2 separate regions of the Homo sapiens genome follow, and region 1 is linked to region 2. The links come from fine-mapping of genetic effects on gene expression. Tissue or cell type: whole blood. Region 2 holds a variant in brackets; the other region holds the start of a gene. All regions are shown on one strand. Distances are from middle to middle.

Region 1 (8,098 bases), 48 kb after region 2:
CACTGATCTAAAAGTCTTTGTTCCAGGACAGAATTAGGTATACAGATTACAGATGCTTAACTAATATTTGATTGTTTGGTATGGCTAAAGCTCTTCATCATTTTTAAAAACATTTATTTCTTTTTTCCCCTACCATGCCAATGTACATCATTTTATTACATTAAGGGACTGTATCTTTAAAAATGCATGCTTACAACAAATCTAGACAGATTTACAGAATGGAGTTATTATCAGAGCATTTCATATGCTATATTCATATTCACTCAATTTGTGTTTAATCATTTCCTTCTGCAAATCTGTGGTTCTAAGCATTGAAGCAAAGCTCTTCAGAGCATCAGTAAAGACTTGTACAATTAAGAATGGGGGCTCAGCCGGGTGCAGTGGCTCACACCTGTAATTCCAGCACTTTGAGAGGCCGAGGTGGGTGGATCATGAGGTCAGGAGTTCAAGCCTGACCAACATGGTGAAACCCAGTCTCTGCTAAAAATACAAAAATTAGCTGGGCATGGTGGCGCCTGCCTGTAATCCCAGCTACTCGGGAGGCTGAGGCAGGAGAATTGCTTGAACCCGAGAGGTAGAGGTGGCAGTGAGCCGAGATTGCACACTGCACTCCAGTCTGGGCGACAGAGCGAGACTTCGTCAAAAAAAAAAAAAAAAGAATGGGGGCTGGGCATGGTGGCTCACGCCAAGGTGGTAGGATCACTTGAGGCCAGGAGTTTAAGACCATTCTGGGCAGCATAGTGAACCTATCTCTCAGAAAGAAAAAGAATGGGGATGACTTCTTACGGACTAAGAAATCAGATTACTGAAATTAACCTTGGCAAATACCAATGAATCACTAATTGTTGGCAAGCCAACTGTGTTGTTATATTTAATGGGAAAATCATGATCACTGATGTTCTCTGTCTGGCTCCTGGATTTTCCGGCTCTTTTTAGCATATCTAACCGGAAGGACTCCAGGAAGCAACAGAAGAGTGCAAAAGGGAGACAAGAAAGGTGATCAGACTCGTTTATTTATTTATTTTTTGAGACAGAGTTTCACTTTTGTCACCCAGGCTGGAGTGCAATGGCGTGATCTTGGCTTATTGCAACCTCCGCCTCCTGGGTTCAAGCGATTATCCTGCCTCAGTCTTCCAAGTAGCTGGGATTATAGGTGCCGGCCACCATGCCTAGCTAATTTTTTTGTATTTTTGGTAGAGACGGGGTTTCACTATGTTGGCCAGGCTGGTCTTGAACTCCTGACCTCAGGTGATCCACTTGCCTCGGCCTCACAAATTGCTAGGATTACTGGTGTGAGCCACTGTGCCGGCTGACCAGACTCTTTTAAAAGAGTTTTATAAAGGAGTCCATTTAGTATTCCATAATGTTCTTTGAGCATGGAGTAAATGCATCTGATGGCTTCCAACACTGTCGGAATCCGAGCCAAACAACACCCTGCCTATGTTATTTTTTTTAGCCAATTGGACTTCCAGCAGAAAAAGGTCCCACTCAAGGAAGTGTCTGGGTTGGTTGTATTGTAAGTTTTTTGGTGGAAGTGGGAAGGGGGTTTGAATTTGGTTGTCTGAATTGTTTCAGAATGCACTACAGTGCTTCCTCCCCTTCTCCTATCCCTTGACTCCTCTCCAACTACCATTCACCACCACTACCAATGGTTAACATTTATTTAATGCTTACTACATACCAGGCACTTTTTTCAGTAGTTTACATCTGTTATGACTTCACTGGATACTTAAACATTTGAGTTAGATACTACTAACCTAATTTGAAAGGTGAAGAAACTGAGGCACAGAGTGGTTAAGTAAGTTGCCTAGTCGTGCAGGTAATATACAGAGCAGCCAGAAAGAGTAACCAAATCTGCCTGTCTTGGTGCTTGAAACTCTAGATGCTACAGCATCTGAAGATTCTGACTTCACACTGCAGAACTGTGAGGTTAGGGCAAGCCTGTGCCTACAGATTATTCCTTGAGCTGCTGTGACACCTGGAGGCATAGATTTGCTCACCTCCAAGCTTTGGTGGCCTTTGAGTAAATGTCAAAGGACTGCTAATGAATTATGGCACTTTCCTGAGTGCCTAAACAAGTTATTAATTACAGGGTATTATTTGAAATGTTTTGCAACATATAATGTTCATTAGTTTGAACAAAGGTATATATAATTTCTTGTAATAATATTTATTATGGATTTGTATTGTGTCTTTGGGTATTTTTTGGACCCTGAGGACATAGAAAAATGGCAGTATTACATCTATTTTGCAATCTCTTTGCAATCTTGTTTTCTTTCCATTCTCTTCCTGTATACTCTGCTCTCCAGGGAGCCCCCTAGCGTTTAGGCAGCCTTGGAGATGGGCTTGAGTCCATTAAAGTCTAGGGTGGAAAGAAAATTGAAATGGAGGAAAGCAGGAATGTGACCCAAGTATGGAAACTGTAGATACACTACTTTATTAGATTATATGTGCTTTTTAATTTTGAATCAGGATAGAGGAGGACTACGGGCTAAGCTCAGCTGGACTTTTTATGAGATATGTACAAATGCCCCTAATTTTTCTGTAGCAACAACCTGATTGATTTTGGGCAGTTTGCAGGTGTCGGGGATAACAAAGGAAATACATTTCCTCTGCTTAAAGATTTCATGCCCTAATGAAAGAAGGGAGAAACACCAATTAAATAGCGGTGTGTCCTTCACAGCTGAAGATGATTATATTGGGACAAATCAAGTCTTTATCAAAGACCATGGCATGATTAATTCATTAAATAGAATTGTCTTTACATAGTTTCCAAATTTGCCATTAGCTCATGGAATGTTAGAGTAAGACAGATTATCAGAGATATTCTAATTCAGTTTCTTCATCTTATACTGTATATAAGGAAACAAGCCCAGAAAAAAGTGTGAGAATCAAAGATGTGGTTTTCAGATTTCCACTCTTTTGGACTTTCTACTACAAATGACTCGACTTCTTTGCTAGTTTGAACTAAGCTTCCCGGTTCTTTTAGTGTTAATTTCAAATTGTTTCCAGAGCAGAGGATATCTCAGTACTCTGTCCAATAAGTTCATAAAATAAGAGTTATGAGTAAAAAGTCTTAATAAATCAGTAATTACCTCTTGCTATATAACGGCAAACAGTATCTTTATTCTAGAATTTTCTTTTTTTTTTGCCCGTTAATAAACATAAAAGCAAGCAGTCAAATGACAGCCTTTTTGCTTTGGCTAAGGATCGATTTATCTGCCCACTAGGATGGCACAAAACATACAGTAACTATAAACTGAATAATAACTAGAAATACATATACCCACACAAATAGATGGCCTATATATTTTGTTTAGGCAGATTATTCTTAGAATATTTATCAGTACATAGTGAGTCCTGAAGACTTTAAAACATAAGCTAATAGTTGGCTGAAATTTCAGATAAAGAATTATCAAATGTCTGATGTTGGGCAATCCAGTATTTCAGCTTCTTGTTCAGTAAAATTAAAAACACATGCTGGGGCAATGGGCTTGCTCTTTATTGTGCAGAGTGGTTACATGGGTGTAAGCACAGGTAAAAATTCACTGAGCTGTACACTTAAGATTTGTGCATTTTACTGTATATACATTATATCTCAAAATAAAACTAGAAATATAAGAAAAAGCCAACCACGACGGACTGAAAACAAACATACAAATTTGGACGTGCGATGATCTTTTAGTCATTATGGTTTCAGATTTGCTGTTAGTTACTGATTGATATTTAATCAAAGTGACGTGAAACACTTTTTCCCCTCTTGAGCTGATCGTTCAGTAAGCTAAGTTACTTAAAAGGATCTTGTGATCTTTTTATAAGACCAGAAAGCCTTTAATTTACCTGTTATTAAGTAAGATGGAGTAGTAACGGTTTCCAAAATTTGTATAACACACGATGAAGTCTCTAGGGGGCAGGGTAAACACAGATTTTTTTTTTCACTTCATCCTTCTCTGCGGCGATGTCTTTATGGAGTTCGTCAGGCAACGGTATCAGATAGCAAATGGGTTTTTAACTAATCTTTCCCTAAGGTACTGTAGTTCTATATTCTATCCTATAGATTCTCAAAATCCACTTTTACACTAGGATGCCACTGGAGGGCAGTTCTGATTTGGATATATCTTAAAAATGATTTGCTTTTATGTTTTCATCTCCCTGCGTTATAAAGCACCATCCTCTGAATTTGGTCGTTGCATCGGGTCAAAAGTTCTGCAGCTTGAAAAACCCTGCAAAAACATCCGGAAAGGAGGGAGAACACTACAACTCCCAGAACGCAATGCTTTCCCTCTCGCCAGCCTGTCCCCTCCAGCTGCTCAATGACCAGCCTCTGTGAGCCTCCTCTCAGCCCTATTGGTCAGTTTGCTCGTCAGTGAGTGAGGCGGAGGGAGGGGAGGAACAGAGAATCCCGGATGGTACGTTTCCCGCCACCGCGGGGCGCGCAGCGGAAAACCCGAAGAAGAAGAAGCTTTTGATTGGACAGTCGCTAGTCCGACCTCAGAGAACTCAGCCAATCATAATGCTTATATGCTCCCAAGGTCCCCGCCTCTTCCTCGAGGTAACCTTTGGTGGCGGGAAGAGTTCGGAAGTTTTCGCGCCGGGGTGGAGTCATCCTGGGAACCTCCACGCGACTTTGGTGGAGGTAGTTCTTTGGCAGCGGGCATGGCGGGTACCGTGGTGCTGGACGATGTGGAGCTGCGGGAGGCTCAGAGAGATTACCTGGACTTCCTGGACGACGAGGTGAGGGAGGCGCCGGCGCGCGGGCTCTAGCGCTCGGAGCCCCTGCGGACGCGGCCCGGCCGGGAAGCCAGAGGCCCGCCAGACCTCCAGACCGTGTGCCGCAGCGGAGCCTGCCGGGCCCGAGCCTCCAGCCCCAATCTTGTAACTTCTCAACGCCGGACTCGCTAGTTTGTGTTCGATAAGTGAACTCTTAGGAAGCCAGCTTTCTCTTAAGTACAAGCGATGGTCCGGGCGCGCAAAAGGCGACAGGTTCCCATTAAGTGCAAGCAGATTGGCAAAGCCCACCTCGGCCTTTTGCATTTCACTGCTCTCTCTTGATTTGAGGAGACTGTGGGGGAGGGGCTGCCCTAGGGCTATAGTGACCAGCCGCGTTGCAGAGTGCTCAGATTTTAGGGACTGACGTTTTACCTGGAGGAAAAGACTCCATAATTCGGCTGCATTCTTTTTCAATACCAACTAAGATGCAGATAAAAAGTGTTTTGTGTGCAGGCCAAGGGGATTTTATGTGCAACCCAAGACTTAAAGCCATAGAATGTTGAAAAAACCATCTTGAAGGGTTGATGATGTGACCAAATAGCTGAGATTCTCTATTCCTTTAGGTCGGGGTATGAGAACCCTTTCCGTATTATAGAGATGATTGGAAAAAATATTACTTTTTACATAATTCTTAAATGAAAAGCCATTTTAATGTGACTATTAAGAGTCTGTTTTATTTACATTTTTATTGTATATATTTGAAGTGCACATGTTTTGATATACATGGTGAAATGATTACTACAGTGAAACAACATATCCATCTATTCACGTTGTTACCTTTAACATTCACATTGCTAGGTTTAACTTAACATTTTAACAAAGTTTGCACTTACTGTCCATTTAGACTTCTCATGAGCTCATTTTAATTCTCCACTAAAGACAGAAATTACAGCATGCAGAAAAGTTGTCCATGATGATGGGAATAACAGCATGGACCTTGAGGAAGTCATTATAATTCTTATAGTCCCCTCTTAGGGTGTTATTTCGAATCTAAAAACAGTGAATGAAAGGGAGAAATTGATGAGCACATACTTACTGGGGATTCAGCTCTGCTGCAGAGATTGACTTAGCTATCTGGCTATGAGAACTACTTCTGTTTAGAAACATTGTTTTTAAATTTGTGGCTATGGTGATATGTGGTGGCTGTTTTGCAGGAAGACCAGGGAATTTATCAGAGCAAAGTTCGGGAGCTGATCAGTGACAACCAATACCGGCTGATTGTCAATGTGAATGACCTGCGCAGGAAAAACGAGAAGAGGGCTAACCGGTGAGAGGCAAGGGGATATACTGGCTGTCAGTGAGAATGGCTCCCTTCCCTCTTGGCCAGATTGGAACAGCCTCTCAGGAGAGGACTTGTATGAAACAGGATTGATCTACAAGCCCTCGTAGCTCACCTGCACCTATTTTTTTTTTTTTTTTTTTCAAAAAGTGGGTGGTTGGCATTTTCCTCCCAAATGCCCCTCCTTCCAATGTTTAGCTGAATATCATTTTTATATCTTTGATAAGTTGAGGTGAAGTTGGTCCTTAGTTCTGGTATTTTACTGAGTCTTATAGGATGGTGTTTTACTGAGACTTATAGGAGAAAGCAGAAGCTGGATTTTCTCATTGTTTTTAATGATCTAAGAATGTCTGCTGTTTTGAGGATCCATTTTTTTGAGTTCTGCCCAGTCTAATTTTTCTTTCTCTTGCTTATGTACAGGCTTCTGAACAATGCCTTTGAGGAGCTGGTTGCCTTCCAGCGGGCCTTAAAGGATTTTGTGGCCTCCATTGATGCTACCTATGCCAAGCAGTATGAGGAGTTCTACGTAGGACTGGAAGGCAGCTTTGGCTCCAAGCACGTCTCCCCGCGGACTCTTACCTCCTGCTTCCTCAGCTGTGTGGTCTGTGTGGAGGGCATTGTCACTAAATGTAAGTGGGTTAAAGGGGGCCGCTTAGGAAATGAATAGACAGGGAGATGGGGAAAGCAGGAGAGGCAAAGTAGATCTGGGTAGCTTGTGGCTTCAAAGAGGTGGAGCATTGGAATTACGTGGTAAAACTTGGAGGGCTCAGTGTGTACAATGATTGGGGGACCTTGAGTAATCACATGTATTAGTAGAATGATGAATTCTGCTGAGAGCTGGAGGAGTCTTGGTTCCTGGCAATCTCTAATTCCAACCTCTAACTCCACCTATTTATTAGTTGGGATTGGTGGTACTTAAAATTTTACATGGATATGGTGGTGGTCTATATATAAATAAAAAAGTGAATAAAAGGTAATATTGAAATATCGTAACCTAGTCAAAAAAACACAGTATTTGGAGTCATTATAGGCTTGCATATGTTTGGGTTCCACCTGTATCATCGTCTAGTTGGGTGAGTTTATATATGCACATTTTCCATCCCTAGGTTCTCTAGTTCGTCCCAAAGTCGTCCGCAGTGTCCACTACTGTCCTGCTACTAAGAAGACCATAGAGCGACGTTATTCTGATCTCACCACCCTGGTGGCCTTTCCCTCCAGCTCTGTCTATCCTACCAAGGTAAGGGGGATAAATCAGTTGAGCTGTCTTGGAGGTTGGAATCAAAGATACCTGTTTTAAGGCAAGGAATTGTGTAATATCTGAAGTCTTTTTTCTGTAAAGGGTGAAAAATAAGGATTAATCCAAAGGAAAGATTGATTGCAGGCCAGAGTTTAATATGAAAAGCCCACAATTCTTATTTATTTATTTATTTATTTTTAAAGATGAGGTTCTCCTATGTTGCCTAAGTTGGAGTGCAGTGGGTATTTGCAGGTGCAGTCATGGTGCACTAAATTTGCAAACTCCGGGGCTCAAGTGATCCTCCCAAGTAGTTGGGATTGCAGGCATGTGCTACGCCACCTGGCTTCACAATTCTTATTTTTTTTTTTAGAGACGGGATCTGTCTCTCTCAGGCTGGAGTGCAGTGGTGCCATTATAGAACACTGCAGCCTGAAACTCCTGGACTCAACGAATCTTCTCACCTTAGCCTCCTGAGTACCTGGGATTATAGGCATGCACCACCAGGTCCGCTAATTTTTTTTTTCACTTTTTTCTAGAGACAGGGTCTCGCTATGTTGCCCAGGCTGGACTGGAAGTCGTGGCCTCAAGTGATCCTCCTGCTTCCATCTTCCAAAGTATTGAGATTACAGACATGAACCACCATGCCCAGCCACAACTCTTATTATTTTTTTAAGAAAACACTTGTTCATTTTAGAAAATTAAGGAATAGTCAAAAGAAGAAGTCATCTACATAGATGTTTTAACAACGTTATAATTTTAGAATCTGCTTTTTAAAAAGTAGAAAAATAATGCTAGACTGTTATGTAATCTTT
Region 2 (8,109 bases):
TCTCTCAGTTCAAACTCCTTTGCTTCTAAGTGTCAGAAAGCCCAATCCAAAGAGCTTAAGCAAAAAGAGGAATTCGCGGCTCATATAAGCAAAGAAGTCTAGAGGAGTGTCGTGCCCATCATTGAACCAATCGTTGTTCTTTCAGGAGAATGCAAGGCTCTGATTGGCCAAACCTGGGTCACATGTCACCCCCATTTCTGCTGTCCCAAGACCACTCAGGCTGGGGATGAGGGATGGTGCTGGAAGTGGGAAGGGGCGGGGTCTCCAAACTACAGTCCTGAACTTTCCCTGGAATTTTGGTGAGGGGATCCTGGGTAACCCTCAAAAACAAATTTCTATTAAGTAATGCCTACAATTCAGGGGGATAGGGATAACACAGATCCAGCAAAGAAATTCTAGGTTAAGCAGTCTGAGAAATGGGCAAAGAGCTAAGAATGTATAGTGTCATGCAAGGAAAGGTGACTAATATTTGTTTAGCACTGACCATGTGACAGGAGCTTTTCACACGATATATCATTTAACCCTCACAATAACTCTCAAATACATAGTTATTCCCAGTTAACAGAATCTTAGGGTAAACTGAGTCTCAGAGGGAATATGTAACTCACTTAGGCCACACAGTTCCTGGTGTCAAAAAAGGTTAGGGACTGCTTCATTAAAGGAACAAGGCTTTATTCATTTTTGTCTCCAGCGTAGGAAAGGGCCTTACTCATACTGTTCATCACTAAATATTTGTTAAATTAATGAATGAATAATTAATTGCATGAGCAAAAGATGAAAAACTGTATCCCAGGAAGAAATGAAGGTAGAGAAAGAACAGTAGGGGTGGGTTAGATTCAAACATGTTTTTAGGGCAGGTGGAAAGAGGTTGAAAATGAAAGAAAATGTTGATGATGAAGCAATGTTCCCTATGCAGTTCAAATTCTAGGAAAAAGCCTTAGATAAAAAATTTCAATATTTCTTCCCCCAGAGTGAGAGAGAGAGAGAAAAGTATGGCCTTGGGAGAGTCTGGGGTAGAGGGAAGAAAACCAAAAGCATTCTTTTCAGCTTCCTCGGTCTTCACTGTGAAAAAGTAAAGGTTCTCATTTCTACAACTGTGTCGAGTATACGCTGACCTGATGTTTTAATTCATGGCTCATCCTCACAGTACCAAGCATAGAATAGATGCTAAAATAAATGTATAAACTCACTGGGTTGAACTGAATGAAATCAAATTATCTTTTAGAAAAATTTGAATGTAGCCTTCAGAAAGGGCAGCTACCTATAAGCCTAATTTGATGGCTTGCCAGGACTTTGGTAGGTGCTGTGGGAAGATGGAGGAAGGCAGTACAATGTGCCCATGTTATCTGTTCTACAGAATATCTTTGCTGGGCAAATATCTCCTTATCATTTTCCTTTTTCAATGCAAGCTTCCACCCTACTTCTTCAGGACACCTGGGCTTGGGCAGTGATTACTAGGTTGACTGTTTGTAATAACAGGTCTGTCTTGGGAAATTATAGGCTGTGAGGTCTCAGAGGTTAGCAATCAGAAGAGATTTACTAAGCCTTCTCTGACCAGTTCCAGGGCTGTCCTCCTTAGCAGACTGACTCAGCCAGCAGTGCCACCTGTGAAACAGGTGGCAAGGCTGGTCACACTGCCTCTTTCCACATGCTATTCTGTCCACTCCCTAAGGGTCCCTGACACCAGCTGAGAGAGTGAAGCCTTGGCCTGCTGGGGATGCCTCCAGCTGCAGAAGGCAGCCTGACCTTGAATTCAAGCAGGCTTTAAATTCTTCGCCTCACAGAATGAGGTAACAGAAAGATGGATGATTACTGATTAGAACACTGTGACCTAAAAAAATTAAGTAATCCACAGTGAAAACTCATTCCCCTGTCTCTGTTTAGTCTCTGACAGGAATAAAGGATGGGATAAAGGGTAGGATAGGGAATGGGGTGGTGGCATCAGAGAGCCCCCTTTGGCCACCAGTAGGTGCCTTTATTGATGTGTTCCCATGAGAAGGAACAAAGAAAAGGGGTTGGAATAAAAAAGAAGAAAATCCTGTCATTCATGGCATAGATGAGCCTGGAGGACTTTATGTTAAGTGAAATACACCAAGCACTGAAAGACAAATACCGCATGATCTCACTCATGTGGGAGATAAAATAAATTTTTTGAGCCCATGGAAGTAGAGAGTAGAATTGTGAGTATTAGAGGCTGGGAAGGGTGGGTGAGGGAGGGGAGGAGGGTGAGAGTTCTGGTGCTTTGCGAATGTGGTTAATTATAATTTATTGTATATTCTCAAAAAGCTACAAGATGATTTTGAATGTTCACAACACAAAGAAATGGTAAGTGTTTGAAGTGATGATATGCTAATTACCCTGATTTGATCATTACTCATTGTATGCATGTATTAAAATAGCACTCCAGCTGGGTGCGGTGGCTCACGCCTGTAATCCCAGCACTTTGGGAGGCTGAGGCAGGCTGATCACAAGGTCAGGAGATTGAGACCAACCTGGCTAACATTGTGAAACCCCGTCTCTACTAAAAATACAAAAAATTAGCTGGGCATGGTGATGCGTGCCTGTAGTCACAGCTACTCAGGAGGCTGAGGCAGGAGAATCGCTTGAACCCGGGAGGCGGAGGTTGCAGTGAGCTGAGATTGCACCACTGCACTCCAGCCTGGGTGAAAGAGCGAGACTCCATCTCAAAAAAAAAAAGAAAAAGAAATAGCACTCCATATCCCATCAATTTGTACAATTATTACATGACAACTAAAAATAAAAGGAAAAAGCAAAGCAAAGAGGCTGGAGAGAAAGGAGTGTAATTCCATCCCTTTGTGGTAGTGGGGGTCCAGTAGGAGGCTGGGCTAGGCAGGGAAGCAAGGAACTCACTTGCCCAACTCCAGGGATTTCAGATCTTCCTGTTTGTACAAGCAGGTGGTTTATTTCTAAATAAGCTATTTTGGATTCTTACTTTGCATAGAGTTTGTACATGTTTTCTGCAAAAGCCCAGGCAGAGGCCTCTGGGAGGGGAGTTTGGTGATGAAGTCAGCCAGAATGAGGCTTTTGATATATGGAACTTTTGCCTGATTTCAAGCAATATATCTTCTGCTCCCTTTATTCTTTCCACTTTCTCAGCTCCACCAGCCACATGGTTTTCTTTTTTATCCAACAGGTATAGGTGAATCAACTGCCTCTCTATGGTAGAGTGTCTATTATTCTAACAAGGGCCAGCCCCAGGAAAAACTGCAGCAGTTGAAGTTCAGCTTCTCCTCTTCCTCCCTACCCTACCAACTCTGTAGCACAATCTAGTTGTCAAGGAACCCAAAACATTTGTGGTTTAA[T/G]GTGTGACCTTTCTCACAGTGTTTTCATCCTGATAGGCCTGTTACATTTTGCTTTCCTGTGCATTTTCTCATTTGGCCAGCAACCCTGTGAATAAAACACTCGTGAGCATTATCTCCCAAAAGGTATTTTGGACCACTTATGAAATTAACTGTCATCTTCTGAGAGCTTGCTACCTGCCAGTCACTGTGCTGAATGCCTTACATACCTCAACTAATCGTCATAATCACTGTGAAGCTGATACTCTTATCCCTAATTTCCAGAGGAGAAAGCTAGGTATACATAACTTGCCCAAGGTCACACAGCTAACTAGCGGCAAAATCAGGATTAAAGCCTGGGTCTGACCAAGTCCAAATCCTGTGCTCTTATCTCTTTCACCATTCTGCCTGTGCAGAAGGCAGGACAGGTATTAGTATGCCTGTTTTCTTTGTCTTTTCTTTCTTTCTTTCTTTCTTTCTTTCTTTCTTTCTTTCTTTCTTTCTTTCTTTCTTTTTCTTTCTTTCTTTCTCCTTCCTTCCTTCCTTCCTTCCTTCCTTCTTTCTCTCTCTCTCTCTCTCTCCTTCCTTCCTTCCTTCCTTCCTTCCTTCCTTCCTTCCTTCCTTCCTTCTCTCTCTCTCTCTCTCTCTCTCTCTCTCTTTCTCTCTTTCTCTCTTTCTCTCTTTCTCTCTTTCTCTCTTTCTCTCTTTCTTTCTTTCTTTCTTGAGACGGGGTGTCACTCCATTGCCCAGGCTGGAGTGCAGTGGCTCAATCCTAGCTCACTGCAGCCTCGACCTCTTTAGCTCAAGCAATCCTCCCACCTCAGCCTTCTGAGTAGTGGGGACTACAGGTATACATCACCATACCCGGCTAATTTTTGTATTTTTTTTTAGAGATAGCGTCTTGCTATGTTGCCCAGGCTGGTCTTAAACTCCTGGGCTCAAGCAATTCTCCCACCTTGGCCTCCCAACGTGCCGGAATTGCAGGTGTGAGCAGCTGCACCTAGCCATATGCCCATTTTCTAAAGAACTTTTTCTCTTTTAAAATGGAATTTCAGAGAACTATTTCACAGAACTCCCAGTGGCAGAGTTGGGGCTAGAGCCCCTTTAATAGATGACGACAGAAGAAAAATTCCTACCTCCTGATTGGGCCACCATGTAGGCTTCTAGGCACAGTAATAGGAAATGTAAAAACCTTCCTGTACCTCTCACATCATGTAGTCAGCACCTGACTCTTACTTCATAAATTGAGTCCACGTGGGGCGTGGTGGCTCACTCCTGTAATCCCAGCACTTTGGGAGGCTAAGGCGGATCGATCACAAGGTCAGGAGATCAAGACCAGCCTGGCCAACATGGTGAAACACCATCTCTACTAAACATACAAAAATTAGCCGGGCGTGGTGGTGTGTGCCTGTAATCCCAACTACTCAGGAGGCTGAGGCAGAGAATTGCTTGAACCCGGGAGGTGGAGGTTGCAATGAACCGAGATCACGCCACTGCACTCCAGCCTGGGCCACAGAGCGAGACCTGTCTCAAAAAAATTAAGTCCAAATAAAATGGAAGACTCTCCTCAACCACCTGCAATATGGCTTCCTCCCCTGCCACTCCATGAAATGGCTCCTCTCCACATCATCTTTGACCTCCTGGCTGAATCGTTTTTACTTCATATTTGTGTCTGTCTTGGCCTCTCTGCAGTGTTTCATTGCTTATTGAAACTCTCTTCTGTCTTGATTGTAGGGTAGCAGCCTGTCCTGGTTTTACTGCTACTTTTCTGGCTTCTCCTCAGCTTTTTCTCAAAGGCTCAGGTTTCGCTGACTACATTGGTCATGGTTCAGGTGCAGAAAGCATAGCCTTCCCTAGCTAGTTTAAGCCAAAAAGATTATTGCAAGGTATTAATTGGCTTACAGAATCAGTGGGAGAGCTGAAGAAGTGGATTTGAGGCTGAATTACTAGGAACAAAGTCACACTCAGAACTGAGTTGCCAGGGGAGTTGCTGCTTCTGCCACAGTTAGGGAGTGTCAGCTGAGCTAGCAAACTCACAACCTAGGGTTGCTGTGCTCCGCACAAGCAGAATAGATGCTTCCTGCCCTGCCCGCCTTGTGCCCCAACAACTCATTCAACTCTGAATTTGGAGTCTTATGTCAGTGTGTCTAATTGTCACAACCTAAGTCACATCCTTAGAAACTCTACCTGGGGAATTTGGAAAATGTAGTTTTTGGCTTCCCAATTCTGCAGTATGGGAAGGCATACTCAAAGGAGATTGAAATAGACATTGAGTCACTCAGTCAGTTAGGTTTTATTTTTTTTTCCTGTTGCAATATACCAATAACAGATAATATTCACCATGCATTACTCACTCCCTTGACTTAAATTCTGATGCAGTTTCCTAAAATTTAGCTGGAAAGTAAAGCATAGACCACAGACTACTCAGGGAAGGGGTATTATATTCATAAAAACATTTTATAAACATGTGAGTAAGTAAAATATTCACTTAATGATATACCTGTCCTATGAATGTTTTCTTCCTTTCTATTTTTTCTCTTTTTTAAACTAAAAATGTAATTATTGGAAAACATAAAGATAAATTGGAAATAAATATAAAGTTATAAAGAAGCACTACAATACTTAAATCTCCATTGGTATTAGAGGTTATATAGCGTTCTTCTCTAAGAGCTAGGACAAAGACAAGCTGGAATGTGAGTTATATGTGCTATTTCCTCAGCTCTGGCATTAACACCATTCAAAATAATATTTAAAAGCAAGTAGCAGGACGGGCATGGTGGCTCATGCCTGTAATCCCAGCATTTTGGGAGGCCGAGGCAGGTGGATCACGTGAGGTGGGGAGTTTGAGATCAGCCTGACCAACATGGAGAAACCCCGTCTCTACTAAAAATACAAAAAATTAGCCGGGCATGGTGGCACATGCCTGTAATCCCAGCTACTCAGGAGGCTGAGGCAGGAGAATCTCTTGAACCCGGGAGGCAGAGGTTGTGGTGAGCTGAGATCACACCATTGCACTCCAGCCTGGGCAACAAGGGCGAAACTCCGTCTCAAAAAAAAAAAAAGCAAAAAACAGGTAGCTGAGAGTGCTGTTATTAAAGGCATAGCCTGGTACCTATTTTAATTTATGTAAAGCAAGTCATTCACAATTTTAATTCTTTATTATTTTCCAGTTTTAAATACAACGTATATAGAAACAATCCCCATGTATGGGTGTGATTACCACTGTACCTTGCCATTCTGCATGCAAATCTGATTACATCATGCCTTGCTAAATAGCTTTCAGAGGCTCCACACCCCATTGAGATAAAGAGTAAGTTCCTCCAACTAGCATTTCACACCCTGTGTGAAGTGGCCCTTGCTCCAGCTCCTGCCATGTCTCCATATCCACACTCCATTCCAGCCGAAGCAAACCAATGACAAGTTTTCCAATGCACCATGCTCTTTTCTGACTCTGGCTCTTTGAAAGTATTGATCCATCTAGAGAGATTATCTTTCTCCCACTCTTGCCTTCTGAGAACTCTAAGAACTCCCCCAAGATACAGTTTATGTGTCACCTTCTCCCAGAAGCTCCGCCTGAAATCACTCTCAGCCCATACCCAACTCCCAGGCTGAATTAGGTGCCCTCTCCACGCCACCCTCCCCTCACCCTTCACTTTCTCCAAGGCTCCCTCAGCACCCTCAGCCATAGCACACTATTGTTAACTGTCTATTTACATATTGGTTCTTCCCATTAACTGGTCTGATTTTTAAAGTTGGAGGTTGATTTTACATAAATGTATTACTCCAAAATAGTAATGCCTAAACAAATATTTGTAAAATGAATGAGTAATCAACAAATGAACAAATGAATGAATAAAAATGTTGGCTTCTCTAGTACACAATCTACACATGCTTTATGCAATTTATAAAGACTATTCACTTGCCAATACAGAAAAAAAAATGATTTTGCATCTTATTGCAGGCATCTAAGTGTGTATTAGGTTAGCTAAAATTTGGCATCAAAGATCAGGTACAGTCACTCAGGCCTGTTATCCTAGCACTTTGGGAGGCCAAAGTGGGCGGATCACTGAGGTCAGGAGTTTGAGACCAGCCTGGCCAACATGGTGAAATCCTGTCTCTACTAAAAAATACAAAAATTAGCCAGGAGTGGTGGTGCACGCTTGTAATCCCAGCTATTTGGGAGGCTGAGGCGGGAGGATCACTTGAACCTGGGAGGCGGAGGTTGCAGTGAGCTGAGATCGCGCCATCGCACTCCAGCCTGGGAGACAGAGCGAGATTCTGTCTCAAAAAATAAAAATAAATAAAATCTTGGCATCAGAATTTCAGGAACTGAGAGCTTGTTAGGCAAGAAGACTAAATAAGTGGTCTTTAACTGGAGCTTATCCAGTGGTCCATGAACTCCCTGAAATGATATGCAAAATTATATTTATGTATTTGTGTAAGCCTGCACCTCACATTCATGTGTTCTCCTTTATAGGGCAGGTCAGCAAGGCTTCTTTGAAAGGAGGAGTGGGGCCTGGTGCGGTGGCTCACACCTGTAATGCCAGCACTATGGGAGGCCGAGGCAGGTAGATCACCTGAGGTCAGGAGTTCACGACCAGCCTGACCAACACGGAGAAACCCCATCTCTACTAAAAATACAAAATTAGCCAGGCATGGTGGCACATGCCTGTATGCCCAGCTACTTGGGAGGCTGAGGCAGAAGAATCACTTGAACCCAGGAGGCAGAGGTTGCCGTGAGCCGAGATAGCGCCACTGCACTCTAGCCTGGGCAACAGAGCGAAACTCTGTCTCAAAAAAAAAAAAAGAG

What was found. PIP is the estimated chance that this variant, and not a neighbour inherited with it, causes the effect.
Region 1: it holds the start of MCM3, and the variant in region 2 is fine-mapped to the expression of MCM3 in whole blood (TOPMed, PIP above 0.99).

The regions. Positions count from the first base shown.
Region 1 is chr6:52,281,233-52,289,330 of GRCh38, reverse strand. MCM3 (minichromosome maintenance complex component 3) reads left to right here and starts at 4,589. Exons shown (of 17, transcript NM_002388.6): 1 at 4,589-4,734; 2 at 5,925-6,037; 3 at 6,470-6,678; 4 at 7,156-7,286. The coding sequence starts at 4,657. RefSeq lists a silencer at 1,963-2,032 and enhancers at 4,112-4,311, 4,632-4,711.
Region 2 is chr6:52,329,202-52,337,310 of GRCh38, reverse strand. No RefSeq gene overlaps it. Among named protein-coding and RNA genes, the nearest start is that of PAQR8, 29 kb to the left of the region's middle. RefSeq lists a cis regulatory region at 109 and an enhancer at 25-194. The variant T/G (reference allele first, on the strand shown) is at 3,324.